Linked DNA regions of Homo sapiens: region 1 is linked to region 2. Evidence: fine-mapped expression QTL. Tissue or cell type: tibial artery. Region 2 holds a variant in brackets; the other region holds the start of a gene. All regions are shown on one strand. Distances are between the middles of the regions.

Region 1 (8,509 bases), 120 kb after region 2:
TACCATTTCATATGCATAAAATAAGTTTCTCTGAATTATTCTCAATTTTACTTGCTATCATGTATCTTAACCTATCTCTTTCCTGGGAAATAAACATTTTGAGGAATTTGTTTTAAAAAGTTATTCAGCCTCTGTATGCAAGGAAAACTATCAACAACCTCATCGCATGATGAAGTATATTCTGAATCATCGTAGAATCCAGTCTTTTAAAAAAATGCTAGCTAGTTTCCAAACTTCTGTATCTGGTTTCTGCTTCTCAGCTATCTCTCCTCCTGGTGAGATTTTCTGGTGGTGCAGAGATAGCTAATCACTGGTTAGACTGCTAGAACTTGCGGTCGAGTGGTGCCTTTCCAGTCATGATGGATTTGTATTTTCTTACCAATCTCAGCATCATGAAACACTCACTGCCTGGCCCCTAGAAAGAGTTTTCAGTGACAGATTTCATCTCTTGAACACCAGTGAAATATTTGGTTGCACTCATAGTTTTATAAAGTATTCATTGACTCAAAAGGTATTAAGTGCCTATTATGTGCTGATAATTGTGGAAAGGGTTGAGAGAGGAAAAAAACAGACAAAAAACCCAATCCAACAGGAAAGATTAACAGGTAAACACACAAGTGAGATTAAGTGAAGTTCTCAATGAAAATGAGTCGGTAAAATTGGCAGCAAGTACTATAAAAGTACAGTGGAAGGGCTGAAACATCTCCGCAGTTATTTTCAGACTTCTCATCAACCACATTTCATCACTGGTTATGCAAAGGGAATTCAAACTCTTCTACGTGTCTCCTTGTCTGTCTATTTCAAGGACTAACCATCAGGATATTTCTGCCTAAGAACAATGAGTTCCCCAAACTGCAAAGTATTTTCTATACTTTGTGTGCAGTTTTTGTGCAGTTTTGCACTTTTCTGCACTTTGTGTACATGCAGAACATTTTTGAGTGCTTATGGATGGATTAATTAATCATTCATTTGATGGATTTACCACCCAGTCTTACTTTCCTTCATTGGGAGTAGGAGAAAGCCTGGTGATGGAAGGAAAGCCCCCGGGGTCAGAAGACCAGATCTGCACTGTGTGGTTAGGCAAGCCAGTTTACTCAGATCAGCTGGCCACAGGGTTCTCATCCATAAAAGAATGTCTGTGAGGTTCTCCCATCCTCTGACATCCTAAAATCCAATGAGAAAGGGACTGGTCAAGCCAGAGAGATTATTGTTATAGTTTAGTAACTTTTTGAACTTCTCAGAGCCTCCAAGATAGATCATGGAGGAGGGAACTGTTAACTGCTAAGCTTGACTTTACTGACAGGAGTAAAAAAAATTGTGTTAAGGTTAGGGAATAATTTTAACAGTCAATTTGTTCTTGTGAACAAATTTCAACAGTGAAATTTTAGATATGTACTTTTTAATGGTGCCAAGCAGCAGTTATTATAGATCAACTGCTGTTTGGCACCATTAAAAAGTACACTTCGCACCGTCAAAAAGTAGATCTGGCCACAATTAGATCAGTCAGGGAAAAACACTTCGCAATGAAATATTATTTACCACGTTTTCTTCCTCCCTCTTCTTGAAAATAGTAATGATTTTAGCATTTTTAAATCTTGAAGAATGTCATTCCGTACTGACTAAAAAGCCTGTGCAAACACCCAACATCTTCTCTTTCCTGTCTATTTTAATGGATATACAAAATAAATATTCATCTAATTTATCAATATTTAAGGCACATTGTGTATCACAATCCAATGGTAAACATTTTTCTTATCAAATGGCTGATCTTGACATTGTTTAAAGCCCTATATGATTTCAGAAAAGTCAGTGACTCCAAGTGGAATTGCAACAATTTCTTGGGTCTTGTAACAAACCTGAAGTGTAACTATTTCTCTTCAGCTACCTTCAATCCCAGAGAGCAAAGAATCACATCCCAGGTGGAGCTGAAGATCTCTTAGGGAAAATGACTCAGGCTAGAGCCTGCATAAAAAGAGGATTGCATGGCTTAGTTTTGCAAACATAAATTTTGTGGGTTTCAGAGCTGGCAGAGAGCTCAAAGAGGAAATCATCAAGGGCAACTTTCTGCTTCGAGGAAGGAAAGTCTACAAGGGCTAAACCTGGATGTGCTATTTCAGTTCAGGCAAAGGAGGAAAATTAAAATTTTGCACAGTTTTATTCTGTTAAAACAAGTGGTTCAGTAAGCTAAACGAGATATGTATATAGTATGCATTAAAATGCAAGACTGACTTCCCTGGGAAAACGTGGGAAAGAAGGAGAGAGGAAACAAACAATTCTTACACTAAGAATTCTCCAGTCGTGTCTTGCAGGCAATATAGAGTAATAATAATAAAAATGACAGGAGATACTTTGACAGGATGGCTTAAAATGCCACTCAATAGATGAAGAGTTGTTCTCATGCTTGGCAAGTTTACAGCAAAGCCCAGAAGGAGAAGCCAGAAAATAATTTAGAAAAACCAAAGCTTAAAACTAGTGGCACACAACTCTGGTTACATTTTTCATTTTCATTTTTGGTTCCTCTGCATTTCGGTGGAACTCAGTCCCACAGATGTCTTCTTCAATGTGGGAACCATCCTTTCTGGAACCACAGAGCTGCAGATGTCACGCTGGAATTCTCCCAGAGGCAAACTGCCAGATGTGAGGCTGCTCTTCCTCAGTCACTATCTCTGGTCGTACCGGGCGATGCCTGAGCCAACTGACCCTCAGACCTGTGAGCCGAGCCGGTCACACCGTGGCTGACACCGGCATTCCCACCGCCTTTCTCCTGTGCGACCCGCTAAGGGCCCCGCGAGGTGGGCAGGCCAGGTATTCTTGACCTTCGTGGGGTAGAAGAAGCCACCGTGGCTGGGAGAGGGCCCTGCTCACAGCCACACGTTTACTTCGCTGCAGGTCCCGAGCTTCTGCCCCAGGTGGGCAAAGCATCCGGGAAATGCCCTCCGCTGCCCGAGGGGAGCCCAGAGCCCGTGCTTTCTATTAAATGTTGTAAATGCCGCCTCTCCCACTTTATCACCAAATGGAAGGGAAGAATTCTTCCAAGGCGCCCTCCCTTTCCTGCCATAGACCTGCAACCCACCTAAGCTGCACGTCGGAGTCGCGGGCCTGGGTGAATCCGGGGGCCTTGGGGGACCCGGGCAACTAGACCCGCCTGCGTCCTCCAGGGCAGCTCCGCGCTCGGTGGCGCGGTTGAATCACTGGGGTGAGTCATCCCTTGCAGGGTCCCGGAGTTTCCTACCGGGAGGAGGCGGGGCAGGGGTGTGGACTCGCCGGGGGCCGCCCACCGCGACGGCAAGTGACCCGGGCCGGGGGCGGGGAGTCGGGAGGAGCGGCGGGGGCGGGCGCCGGGGGCGGGCAGAGGCGCGGGAGAGCGCGCCGCCGGCCCTTTATAGCGCGCGGGGCACCGGCTCCCCAAGACTGCGAGCTCCCCGCACCCCCTCGCACTCCCTCTGGCCGGCCCAGGGCGCCTTCAGCCCAACCTCCCCAGCCCCACGGGCGCCACGGAACCCGCTCGATCTCGCCGCCAACTGGTAGACATGGAGACCCCTGCCTGGCCCCGGGTCCCGCGCCCCGAGACCGCCGTCGCTCGGACGCTCCTGCTCGGCTGGGTCTTCGCCCAGGTGGCCGGCGCTTCAGGTGAGTGGCACCAGCCCCTGGAAGCCCGGGGCGCGCCACACGCAGGAGGGAGGCGACAGTCCTGGCTGGCAGCGGGCTCGCCCTGGTTCCCCGGGGCGCCCATGTTGTCCCCCGCGCCTACGGGACTCGGCTGCGCTCACCCAGCCCGGCTTGAATGAACCGAGTCCGTCGGGCGCCGGCGGGAGTTGCAGGGAGGGAGTTGGCGCCCCAGACCCCGCTGCCCCTTCCGCTGGAGAGTTTTGCTCGGGGTGTCCGAGTAATTGGACTGTTGTTGCATAAGCGGACTTTTAGCTCCCGCTTTAACTCTGGGGAAAGGGCTTCCCAGTGAGTTGCGACCTTCAATATGATAGGACTTGTGCCTGCGTCTGCACGTGTTGGCGTGCAGAGGTTTGGATATTATCTTTCATTATATGTGCATCTTCCCTTAATAAAGAGCGTCCCTGGTCTTTTCCTGGCCATCTTTGTTCTAGGTTTGGGTAGAGGCAATCCAAAAGGGCTGGATTGCTGCTTAGATTGGAGCAGGTACAACGTTGTGCATGCCCCGTATTTCTACGAGGTGTTCGGGACGGCGTAGAGACTGGGACCTGCTGCGTACTGGCAAAGCAGACCTTCATAAGAAATAATCCTGATCCAATACAGCCGACGGTGTGACAGGCCACACGTCCCCGTGGGTCTCTGTGGAAGTTTCAGTGTAGCGACATTTCAGATAAAAGTGGAAAAAGTGAAGTTTGGCTTTTTTCATTTGTATGCAGTCCTAACTCTTGTCACACGTGTGGGATTTATCTTTTTCCATAACTTACTGAAAACCCTTCCTGGCGGGCTGAACCTGACTCTTCCTGAGCTGAGTCCTGGACTGGCACACTGATGGCTCTGGGCTCTTCCCGGTCAAGTTATAACAAGGCTTTGCCCATGAATAATTTCAAACGAAAATGTCAAGATCCTTGCCGGTGTCCTGGGATTACAAGGTGAATCTTGTCATGAAGAAATTCTAGGTCTAGAAAAAATTTGAAGATTCTTTTTCTCTTGATAATTCACTAATGAAGCTTTTGTGGTTGAAAAATAAAAAGTGAGGTTTATGGTGATGTCAGGTGGGAAGGTGTTTTATACATCAATACATTCGAGTGCTCTGAAGTGCATGTAATAATAGCTGTTTCTCTGTTGTTTAAAGGCACTACAAATACTGTGGCAGCATATAATTTAACTTGGAAATCAACTAATTTCAAGACAATTTTGGAGTGGGAACCCAAACCCGTCAATCAAGTCTACACTGTTCAAATAAGGTAAGCTGGGTACAGAAAAAGAAAATTAAGGTCTTTGATGTTTCTACTGTCCTATGCTGAACAAGAATGTCTTTAAAGCTGATTACTGGATGAAATTATTTAACAGATGACGAAGAAGAAGGGATTCTTGGCAATTCGCTGGCCGGTGTCATACTCTATTAGGCCTGCAACATTTCCAGACCTTAAACTGATAGAACATTTTAATTGTTTTAATTGTTTTTGGAAATGATGGGAGAGTTCCTAAGTGGAGTATAAACTGTGGAGAGATGAACCATCTTGAGTAGGCACTGAAGTGTGCTTTGGGTCATGATAGATTAATTAATCTCATCTAAACATTGATGTCTTTTTCTGTTGCTGTCTAGACTGTGAACAATGTCTAACACCTTAGGGAAGAGGTGGGGAGGAATCCCAATGTATACATTGCCCTTAAGCAGTGTTTGATTCATTCATCTTTGGACTCCATGAATCGAAATCTGGTAGAATACATGATCTTAGTGGAGGAGGCCAAATGCGTGACTCACTGAGCCTGGCAGAGCAGAAATACTCTGCTGTCTGCACCCTCTGGGTCTGGTGTGGCTCTGCTTCTTGGTGCCTCAACTCTGACTGGCAGCTGTCCCCAGGAGGCGATAATTCAGCATGTTCAATCTAAAGGTTATGACTTCCTTGATGGTTTTCACCATATTCTTGGCAAGTTTTTGGTTTTTGAAATGTTCTAGGAGGCTTGGTAGAGATCTTATGAAATAGAGAATAGCTGCTGTGGAAATTATTTTAATGCTAATTACATAAAAGTACAAAAGTAGCACTAGCTAAAACAAAAGGTATTTTGCTGTTCTGTTTTGTTTTAGCTTGTGCCAGGCCTTTTACAGCATTAGGAATGCAACTTCTAGATAACGATGCATCTTTTAAGTGAATGTTCTTGTTTTTCAAAATGAACTTCATGACAGTAGTTGCCAAACCAGCAAGGAGAACTTGCATGCATACGTGCATGCATGTGTGGATATGTATGGGGGTGGGGGGAGAGAAAGATGAAGGAATTTCATAACATGAAATAATGATTACAGTTCTGGTCAAACTTGTCAATTCAGATTTCACCAATTGAGAATTAGTAAGTAATTTCTCTGATACAGGCCTGAAGTTTACCTTAGTAAACACTTTACTTCCATATGGTAAAAATTAGATTTTGGGAGGAATGCTTACCTCCTAAATATATTCAATCTAATATTTGAGGGACACATGGGAATATATTTATGATTCATCTGCTTTTTAAACATAAGCCTTTGTTAACTGTAAGTTCTTGAACTTTATAAGGCTGCTGTTATTTAAATGAGCACAGCTCCTGATCTGCAAACAGCAGAGCGCAGGGCTACAGCTTGGGGGATGCCAGCCGACTCAGGGTGGTCCTATGGACTGAACAATCTCTTGCTGCTGTACTGGAGGGCCTGGGAGCTTTTCCATCAGCCTCGGCCTGAGGTGTGCACTCTTCTCCTGCCCACCCCAGGAATAAATGAGATTCCTGGTTAAAAAGGACCAGAGCAGTCATTTTACAGTTGAGGAAACTGTTGCTCTGAGAAGTGAGGGATTTATTCATGACTACACTGATGGTGAGTGCCCATGTCAGGTCTGGAACCAAAGTCTACCCAGTATCCACACACCACCATCCCTCAGGTGGCTCTGCCACAGTCTGATGGGAGGCTCCAAAGCGGGAGGAAGAAGGAAAGTCTTGCCCACTGCATCTCCTCAGTTGGCCTTCCTCTCTGCCTGTTTTCCCTCCCTACAGTTAGCATCTTAAGCAGCTGCCCCTCTTCCCTCCCGACTGCTCTCACTACTGCAGCCTGGCTCCAGCCGCAGGACACTACTGCTGTGCAGAAGCCCCTACTTGGAACTCCAACTGCATTTTTCACCTTTGCTAACAGTTTTCAGTGGTGGTTGGGAAATGTTATTGGCTTAAGCCTTAGCACAAACCGTCACCGGTGATATTCATTCCATGGAAATGTTCTGAATTCTAAAGCTGAATTTACAAAGCTTCTGGAAAACAACCTGCAACCAAATTAGTGACTGAATTTTTTAGTTAACTCAAAATTCCAAATCAGAGGGTTTTGCAATGCCTGGAGGAACCTTGGAGGCTTTTAAAGTGTTAATGCTATTAATGGCATTCAGAGGGATTTTCTACAGAATTGTCCCTTCATTACCTGTTTATACAGTTTTACTACTTACCAGGGTACTGTATAAATCCTTGTGCTAAATTTTGCTATAGAGTATGTGGTCCCTGCTGTGAGCTGGGAGGAACCAAATACTGTATCTCTATGTTACATAGAAAGCCCTAGGAGACTTTCTCCTGTTATCTGAACAACTATTTGCTGTACTGATAAAAAGGAAACAGCATAGTCTCATTCACTTTTTGAAATGGAAATGATAAAATAAAACACATTTTGGTCATTCGGGAACAAAATACCCTCTCTACTTTTATCACATAAAATTAAATAAATAGAAACCAAAATATTTCAGTATCAATCTTAGTTTGTGCACTTTAGGATAAAGAATGTGTTTACCCAAATCCTTTTGGCCTGGTTACTTAGTTCAGATTTTGAAAGAAAATATATTTGTGGCTTTTATGTGTGAATTTAGACAATGGAATCCATGTGGTGCCTCGTTTTCCCTGAGATTATGTATTAATTCAACCTGTAAATGCAAACCATCTAATAGTCAGCGAGACCCTATAGCCCTGCTGCTTAATGGGGGCACACAAGGGCATGCAGCCCTCGTACCAGGCAGACTGTGTTCATATTAACAGCATCGTGGAGAAACTCATGCTGGGGGACAGGGGAGGGAGATGTAAATGCTCAGCAGGGAGATCTGGAGATTCCTGGAGCAGGTGGAGTTGGGACCTGGCCTTGAACGATGGGTCTGGCTCTGGCAGTCAGTAATGCCAAAGGGAAGAGCAGCATAACTGTCACTTTCCATGGGACAGAAGTGTGTGAATCAAGTTGCAGTGACGCTTCACCTATTTATTATTTTGGTCATTTAGAAGAATTTCATTGTCAGTAGAAGTCCTTTAAATCATTTCCCCTTCAGTGACGTCTCACAAAAGAAAGATCTGTCTTTAGCTTTTTAGTCTCAGACTTTATTAGACAGATACTACCTGTACTCTTATTCTGTAATCTTTGTTGGGATGGATTCACATCTTGCAAAGGAAGGGAGGCATGTAGTATAATGGGGCAAACAGACCCAGCTCTGCCACTCGTTAGATATGTGACCTTCTGCAAGTTGCTTAGTGCCTGTGAGCTTCAGTGTCCTCATGGATAAGAAAGATCCAACACCTTCTTGGAAGGATTATATCAAATGAAGTAACATGAGTAAAGGGTCCAGCAGAATACCTGGCATATAGTGGAGTCAATGAATGATTAATAATATTATTAATAGTGGTCATGAGAGAATATATGTATAACATGTTATTATGTAGACTCACTATATAGACTCTATTCTACATAGAATATAGAACATTATATAACAAACAACTATAATAAGTAGACTATAGTAAACAACCTCACTTTGTCTCAGTTGCCTCATCTTGATGGAAAACTGCTCTTTCTCTCCTGTTA
Region 2 (8,509 bases):
TCCCTTGGATTACCATACCCTCCCTCTTTCCCCTCCAGCCCACTTTTCCCCTTTAAATATTGAAGCCCTCAAAATCATCTTTGGAGAAAGGCACAGGCCTTTCTCCTCTTTCTGTGACTCTGTCTTTATTTCTTCTGCAAATGTCCTTAACCTTGACAAAATAAATTGATTGAGATCTGTCTCACTTTTTTGTTTACATAAGGATAAAGAAACTGGGACTTGGAGAGGCAAATGGACATTTGCAAAATCTTAAAGCCAGTGAAAGGTAGAGGCTGACTTAAAGTCAGTTCACCCTACTCCAAATCCCAGTGGTTTTCTACTGTTATGCAAATCCCCTCCTCTCACATGGCCCCAGCATTCCATAGTGGCTGCATGTACAAGTGAGACTAGCAGAGGAAAATGCCACAGGACTGAAGGATGCAGAAAGGAACAATGACACTGAGATCTGGGGAGGGGCTCTGTAACTACAGTCTTTGTGTCTTTAGGTCTTAGTTTTCCTTTGGTTCTTGGGAAAGCACCTTTGGAAAAACTCTAATCTGTCTCAGCTGAACAATGGGCAAAGATACTTTGTTCCTGTCTTGTCCTGCCCCTGTTCCTTTTCCTTTAACATCCCATAAAGTCACAAGTGGGAGCAGAGCTGGAAGAACTCAGGGAATGATGGCCCTCACCCTAAGTACACCTTCAAGCCAGGCACTATGCTAGAATTTATAACCTCATTTACTCCTCCTAGCAACATTCTGAGGTATTGTTGATTGGCCTTATTTTCTAGGTAAAGAGGTTAAGAAAAATGAACAACTCAATGATTAAACATATAGCTAGTCTATACTCTCTCTTATCTCTGAACACTTTTCATCTGGAGCTATTAATGCCCTCTAGCCTTTATTATAATTATCACATATAATTATGCCTTTTCTCCTCAAAATTATCTGTTGGAGTCATCTTATAGTAGAGTCTTTACAGAACACAAAGCATTCAATCACTTTATTTCAGACACCAACCTTGTTTTTGATGAACATATGTTAGTCTTAAGCCATCTAAAGTAATGCTAATGTGGGATCTTATGGAAGACTACTGGTAATACAGGAAAAAAAGTGGCAAAGAAATCTGACACGTTTGGCAATTATTCCTGAGGCTCTGACCTCTCAATTGTTGAGTGTTGGAGGTCACAGTAAACAAACCATATAAAGATCATGTTGAAAGTCAACATTATTAATATACCATACTTGAAGGATATGTGGTTATTGTCTCACGTGTCCATGTGAAGAGACCACCAAACAGGCTTTTCTTTTTTAATTTTATTTTATTATTATTATACTTTAAGTTTTAGGGTACATGTGCACAACATGCAGGTTTGTTACATATGTATACATGTGCCATGTTAGTGTGCTGCACCCATTAACTCGTCATTTAGCATTAGGTACATCTCCTAATGCTATCCCTCCCCCCTCCCCCCACCCCACAACAGTCCCCGGTGTGTGATGTTCCCCTTCCTGTGTCCATGTGTTCTTATTGTTCAATTCCCACCTATGAGCGAGAACAAGCGGTGTTTGGGTTTTTGTCCTTGAGATAGTTTGCTGAGAATGATGGTTTCCAGCTTCATCCATGTCCCTACAAAGGACATGAACTCATCAATTTTTGTGGCTGCATAGAAACAGGCTTTGTGTGAGCAAAAATGCTGTTTATTTCACCTGGGTGCAGGCAGGCTGAGTCCGAAAAGAGAGTCAGCAAAGGGTGGTGGGATTATCATCGGTTCTTATAGGTTTTGGGATAGGCGGTGGAGTTAGGAGCAATGTTTTGGGGTCAGGGCGTGGATCTCACAAAGTACATTCTCAAGGGTGGGGAGAATTACAAAGAACCTTCTTAAGGGTGGGGAGAATTGCAAAGAACCTTCTTAAGGGTGGGGAGAATTGCAAAGAACCTTCTTAAGGGTGGGGGAGATTACAAAGTACATTGATCAGTTAGGGTGGGGCAGAAACAAATCACAATGGTGGAATGTCATCAGTTAAGGCTATTTTCACTTCTTTTGTGGATCTTCAGTTGCTTCAGGCCATCTGGATGTATACATGCAGGTCATTGGGGATATGATGACTTAGCTTGGGCTCAGAGGCGTGACAGTTATCTTATGAGATCACAAATAGGGAAAAAACTATCATGGCATGAGGTATAATTTTCAATGACAACATCATATTTAGATTCAAGAAGTGCTGAATCTCAAGCAATCCAGATGAATATGAAGATGCTGTGCTCTGAAAAATGGGCTTGAAGACTGGCCATAGGGAATGTCAAAACACTGATATCAAAAGTGCACTGGAAGAATTTGATTAAAAGTATTGCATTGTGAGTGGGTAAAGGCAGTATTTCTGCATTATAAACATGATGTGATTTTTTTTTTTTTTTTTTTTTTTTTTTTTGGGACGGAGTCTCACTATCTCACCCAGACTGGAGTGCAGTGGCACCGTGTCAACTCACTGCAACCTCCATCTCCTGGGTTCAAGCAATTCTTCTGCCTCAGCCTCCTGAGTAGCTGGGATTACAGGTCCCCACCACCATGTCTGGCTAATTTTTAAAAAAATATTTTTAGTAGAGACGGGGTTTCACCATGTTGGCCAGGCTGGTCTTGACCTCCTGACCTCAGGTGACCTGCCCTCTTTGGCCTCCCAAAGTTCTGGGATTACAGGCGTGAGCCACTGTGCCTGGCTGTGATTTTTAAATATATAATGAAAACTCAACATTTTAATCAAGATTTACAAATTAATGAATAGCATGTGATTTTACCTATAAGTAATTAAAATAACACATTATTATGCACAGACATTTGTCTATTTAATTAACATCCTGATATATTTTAATATCAACAAATATAAAAGTAAAAACCTTTTCTTAAGAGTTCATTTAGCAAATGAGGATGCTGTAATATTTGGAGTCACTCACATGTGGTACTGAGTTTTATATCGACTATTCCACTCTCATGGAAGTGATGACTATGTGTTCACTCACACATAGTTCAGACTAGCATACAGTCTGTCCTCAGTCAACGTGTGTTGAGTGTTGCTGTCATTTCAGAGATAAAGAAATACAGACTCCAATGAGTTAGGAGACTTGGCCAAAGCACACAGCAAATAATGAGTAGAGTTGGTTCTGTGACAGTTTTCTGACCTCCTGGCCAGAGTATAAGCCACTACAACCAGCTAGAGCACAAGGAATCATTTCCTCCTACCCCGCTGGGAGGATAGCCTCATCACAGGGCAAAGACTACAAAGCTTGTAAGCCATGAATGATATCTAGAGATATGTGTTATGTCTGGATCTGGCCACTGCTTAGGACAACTTCGTGCATGTAAGTTTGGCC[T/C]TTTGCTAATTTGTTATCAGTTCATGATAGCTGGCAAGCAAAATTGGCAATATTTGATCACTTGGCTTAGTAATACTATTTTCTTTCCATTTCAAATATTATCTCTTTTTGTCTCACATTCTTTTCAACACTTGATAGCAGCAGCTCACGCTGCTGATGCAACACAGGTGAAGAGCACCTTCCCCTCCCCCACCTGTGGGCTGATTCCCACCACGTGGATCCCAAGGCCATCCCAGGAACTCTTTGGAGGGGAGAAGCCCAGTGGAAACTGTCAGGCCTCTGAGCACAAGCCAAGCCATCGCATCCCCTGTGACTTGCACGTATATGCCCAGATGGCCTGAAGTAACTGAAGAATCACAAAAGAAGTGAAAAGGCCCTGCCCCACCTTAACTGATGACATTCCACCATTGTGATTTGTTCCTGCCCCACCTTCACTGAGTGATTAACCCTGTGAATTTCCTTCTCCTGGCTCAGAAGCTCCCCCACTGAGCACCTTGTGACCCCCGCCCCTGCCCACCAGAGAACAACCCCCTTTGACTGTAATTTTCCATTACCTTCCCAAATCCTATAAAACGGCCCCACCCCTATCTCCCTTCGCTGACTCTCTTTTCGGACTCAGCCCGCCTGCACCCAGGTGAAATAAACAGCCATGTTGCTCACACAAAGCCTGTTTGGTGGTCTCTTCACACGGACGCGCATGAAAGAAACTTTTTCAGATGTGTGGTGATGTAAGAAATACTAGGAAAAGGGTTTTGGTAGAACAGGCATAGCAACAAGGTTATTAATGTTGCAAATTGGCATACATTTTAATCAATGACATCAAATTTAGCCACAATTAGAGAAAGTTTTTTTTAATCACAATTTTATTAAGAGGTTGGAGGTATATTCTCACAAGTTAAAGAATGTGGTCTCCAAATATCATTTTAAGAACTGTACTTTAAAGAAATGTTAGCATTCCCTTAATTAAGAAATGCATGGAATATATGTATGATGGGGGGGCGTATGTGGGTGTGTGTGTGGGTGTGTGTGTGTTGTTTAAATCTTTCTCACTCTGGGCGAGGCAAGTTTTCAAAGGCTGGGCTGTCTCTGGGTAGAATCATGCCATAAGTTGCTTTCTGCCTTGCCCCCTCCCCACCATTCAACAAAAGTCCTTGTGGACCTCCCATCAGCTCCCTTCTTCCTTTCCATTCCCTCTCCAGGCCCCATGCCAGCCCTCAGAGTTGTCCACCATAAAACATTCCTCTTGGGGCCTCAGCTGGAAATGGCATGTCTCCTTTGAAGTGATTAGGTCCCAGAATGTTAGGATCAGAAAAGACTTGAGGTTGGGCATGGTGGCTCATGCCTGTAATCCCAGCACTTTGGGAGGCCAGAGGGGGTGGATCACCTGAGGTCAGGAGTTCAAGACCAGCCTGGTCAGCCTGGTGAAGCCCCATCTCTACTAAAAATACAAAAATTAGCCGGGCCTGGTGGCGGGCATCGGTAATCCCAGCTACTTGGGAGGCTGAAGCAGGACAATCGCTTGAACGGGGAGGCGGAGTTTGCAGTGAGCTGAGATTGTGCCATTGCACTCCAGCCTAGGTGACAGAGCGAGACTCCATCTCCAAAAAAAAAAAAAGACTTGTGTAGATCCCACGAGCAAACACTTCTCGTGTTCAAAGTAAAGGGCTCAAGGACCAAAGACCTCGATCTTCTGGGGTGACATGTCAGGGCAGACTCTGAGAATCATGTCTGGGGGTCTCTAATGCTTTCCTAGGGCCCAGAAGAGCAACCCATGTGGACAACGCTGATAAAAGGAATCGGTCCTTGAGGTCCCGGCACCATCCTACTCTTTGCCTTGTCTCTTTCCTCCAGACTGGCCCTAAGTGCCTCTTCCAATCCACCCCTCTGAATGGGGCAGGGTGGGCCTACTCACTGAAACGTGGCTGTGCCAGAAGAGTTTTCCAGATTCAGACTGATGCAGGGGTGGGTGAATACTCTGACTTGCAGAAGATTGCCTGGGCTTGAGTCCTGATTGTCAAGAACAAATCCACATTATCATGAACACTTATTGGACCGGGCATGGTGGCTCACACCTGTAATCCCAGCACTTTGGGAGGCTAAGACAGGAGGATTGCTTGAGGTTAGTAGTTTGAAACCAGCCTGGGCAACACAGGGAGAACAAGTCTCTGCAAAAAATAAAATTAGCTGGGTGTGGTGGTTCATGCCTTTAGTCCAGGCCACTCAGGAGGCTGAGGCAGGAGGATTGCTTAAGCCCAGGAGTTTGAGGCTGCAGAGAGCTTTGATTGTGCCACTGCACTCCAGCCTGGGCAACAGGCAAGACCTTGTCTATTAAAAAATTATTTTTTTAAAAGGACATCTATTACAACCCCTTTAATTGTCAACCTGTGAGTTACTGGAAACTTACTATTTTAGGGAGACAAAAGGCTAAAAAGACAGTTGTTAATTCTCAGCACAATTCAGAATTTTTTGGTAGACATATCATTCTTTTCTTCCCTGATCCATACACATGTATCATTCACAACCTGAACCCTTCAATGGAGTCTCCTTGTTCCTAAGATAAATTCCAGCCCTATAAAGGCCCTCAAGATGGAGCCTTGCTGACCATTCTGGCCTCATTTTGTACCACTGACCCCTCTTTCTGTGTGCCTCAGCCCTCTTGTCTTCTTCCTAGGAGAGGCTTTTCCTCATCCCTCAGTCCTAGTCAAGCCCCCCATCCCCACCCCAGTTGCACACTCCCTTAGCAACTTGGCAACTTCTGAAGGATTTATACAATTGTAATTAAGCAATTAGTTGAGTAACTGGTTGAGCATTCACTCCATATTCCTGAATGACCACTCACAGAGATCATGGATTATCTCTGTCTTGTCCCCCAAGAGCTTATGACTGTACCTTGCATGTATAATGGGTACATAATATTGGTTGAATGAAGAATGGGGATCATGGTGGGGCTGCATGTCTGGCAACCACACTGAATACAGGGGTGGGGTCTGGCCCAGCTGACTAGCGATGGGAGCTGGAGGGACGCAGCCTGGGTGGCTTATGAGAGCAGCCAGTGAACAGGCTGCCAGGCCAACCGGGGAGAGGGAGGCTAAACCTGGAGCATCTCATGAATAGGCCTAGGATATCCCTGCTGCCTGGGCCCCTCCCGGGATGACCACAGAGAGGACTCTGGAATTTGGCTTTCTGGCTCCATGTTTTTCTGAGCAACACAAGATTTGGATGAAAACCAGTTTAGGAGAAAACACAACATTATTTTATTCCTTGAAGGTCTGGGAAATCCTCTTGAGGAACAAGACAATTTGGGGTGGTCAAACTCATTCTCCACACCACATGGCCCAGAAGGGACCCTGGTCACCCATGGGCATTAGGGTATTTCTGGCTCCAGTTGAAAGAACTTTGCTGGCTTTGGAGTCAGGAAAACAGGTTCAAATCTGTTTTTCCACTTGTTAGCTGTGTGAACTCTGGCAAATGACGTAATCTCTCCTTGAGCTTTAATATTTGCTCTTATAAAATTGGGTATAATTACTAGGTTAATACAGGAATTAACAGATCATAAGTAAAGTGCCTGACCTAGAGGAGGCACTATATGTAAACAATCATTAAAATTACTGATGGTTTTATTACTATGTTAGCTTCTGGAGGGACTTTGGCTTTGATTCCTGTAACTTTTGACTTCTTTTAATGGGGATTGAATAAAAACCCATTGTGAATAGGTGTTAAAGCTGCTAGAAAGTTTGATTTCTCAGATAATAGAAATCTTCCTTTTAACAGCCTTTTATTCCTATTCAATGCAATTGCAACTCTGATCCAGAAACTTTATGGTTAGGATTACCTCTAGCAATTAATGTTCTCTCCAATGAGTGGGAAGGGAGGTCACCTCCACTCTGCTGTCCCAGAGATGACAGGAAATGCTGCACTGAGGTGTTGAGCCCAATTACTAGGTACTGTTAGGAAGAACACACAAAGAGGTGCACATTCCTGAGTGATGAGTGTGGGGCATTTTGTTTATCCACTCCTTACAAGGAATAAGTTATCGCTGGTTCTGCAGAAGGTCACTGTTATTTCTCTCTCCCCAAGTGGCTGTAATCAGCTTTTTCCTCAGAGGGATGGAACCATGATTAAACAGGGTAAATATACCAGCACTTAACATACCCAGCTATGAGGATATTGATAGACCCTTGGAACAGAGCTGGAGTTTTTGTCTAATCCTACCGACTCTCAGAAGACAAGCCTCCCTTGAACCCCAGAGGCAAGGCAGCCTGGGAGCCAGTCACAAAAGTTGGCCTGGTAGGAAGAGCTGGAGTTGTTTTTTACCCCGCCACAGGCCATTTGTTCCTTTCTTCCCTTTTCCTTCACTGATAGCCCTTGAGCACCGTGGTGTTGTGCAGGTGGTCCTGCAAGGAGCAGGGGACCCAGAAAGTGAGGGGTGATGCCTTTCCTCCTCTCAGAACGATCAGCCCTTTACACTCAAAGGAGCATGTAGATCTCAAGGCCACCCCTGGGATCTCTAAAGCTCAAGCCTCACCTCTGTGCTGAAGCCCTTGTCCTGTCCACCTCCTGTCCTTGGGACTCCCACTGCACCAGCTTGCACTCCATGCACAGTCTGATGCTTGCTTTTCTATGGTCTTTTGTGGTTTGTGATGCGTTCATGGGTGTTGGTCTGGCCTCCTCACCAAGACCACATCCTCACAGGCAGGTACTATGGCTTCCACTTCATGTGTGACCCTGCAGGGCTCAGCCCAAGTGCAAAAGTGCGGAGCATTAAAGGGGTGCTCGTTGAAAGCTGATTGATGGATTGATGGAAAGTGGGTTAGGTTTGTTTGGTTTTTGTTTTTTTGAGACAGAGTCTTGCTCTGTTGCCCAGGCCAGAGTGCAGTGGTGCCATCTCGGCTCACTGCAACCTCCACCTCCCGGGTTGAAGCAATTCTCCTGCCTCAGCCTCCTGAATAGCTGGGATTACAGACACATGCCACCAAGCCCAGCTAATTTTTGTATTTTTTTTTTTGAGGCGGAGTCTTGCTCTGTTGCCCAGGCTGGAGTGCAATGGTGCTGTCTCGGCTCACTGCAAGCTCCGCCTCCCGGGTTCACACCATTCTCCTGCCTCAGCCTCCCAAGTAGCTAGGACTACAGGCACCCGCCACCATGCCCGGCTAATTTTTTG

Alleles and levels. Positions count from the first base shown, and alleles are read on the strand shown. Sizes are in standard deviations (SD) of each study's normalised expression.
As copies of T replace C in region 2, the expression in tibial artery of the gene that starts at base 3,408 in region 1 goes up (small effect, 0.30 SD a copy in GTEx).

What was found. PIP is the estimated chance that this variant, and not a neighbour inherited with it, causes the effect.
Region 1: it holds the start of F3, and the variant in region 2 is fine-mapped to the expression of F3 in tibial artery (GTEx, PIP 0.99).

What each region holds. Positions count from the first base shown.
Region 1 is chr1:94,536,658-94,545,166 of GRCh38, reverse strand. F3 (coagulation factor III, tissue factor) reads left to right here and starts at 3,408. Exons shown (of 6, transcript NM_001993.5): 1 at 3,408-3,630; 2 at 4,799-4,910. The coding sequence starts at 3,531. It overlaps MIR12133 (microRNA 12133), which reads right to left and starts at 1,465; the gene lies at 1,388-1,465. It overlaps LOC124904223 (a long non-coding RNA gene), which reads right to left and starts at 3,193. Exons shown (of 2, transcript XR_007066234.1): 1 at 1-3,193. RefSeq lists a silencer at 3,209-3,488.
Region 2 is chr1:94,653,033-94,661,541 of GRCh38, reverse strand. The region is part of intron 3 of SLC44A3-AS1 (SLC44A3 antisense RNA 1); the gene reads left to right. Among named protein-coding and RNA genes, the nearest start is that of MIR378G, 89 kb to the left of the region's middle. RefSeq lists enhancers at 1-239, 1,717-2,235. The variant T/C (reference allele first, on the strand shown) is at 3,349.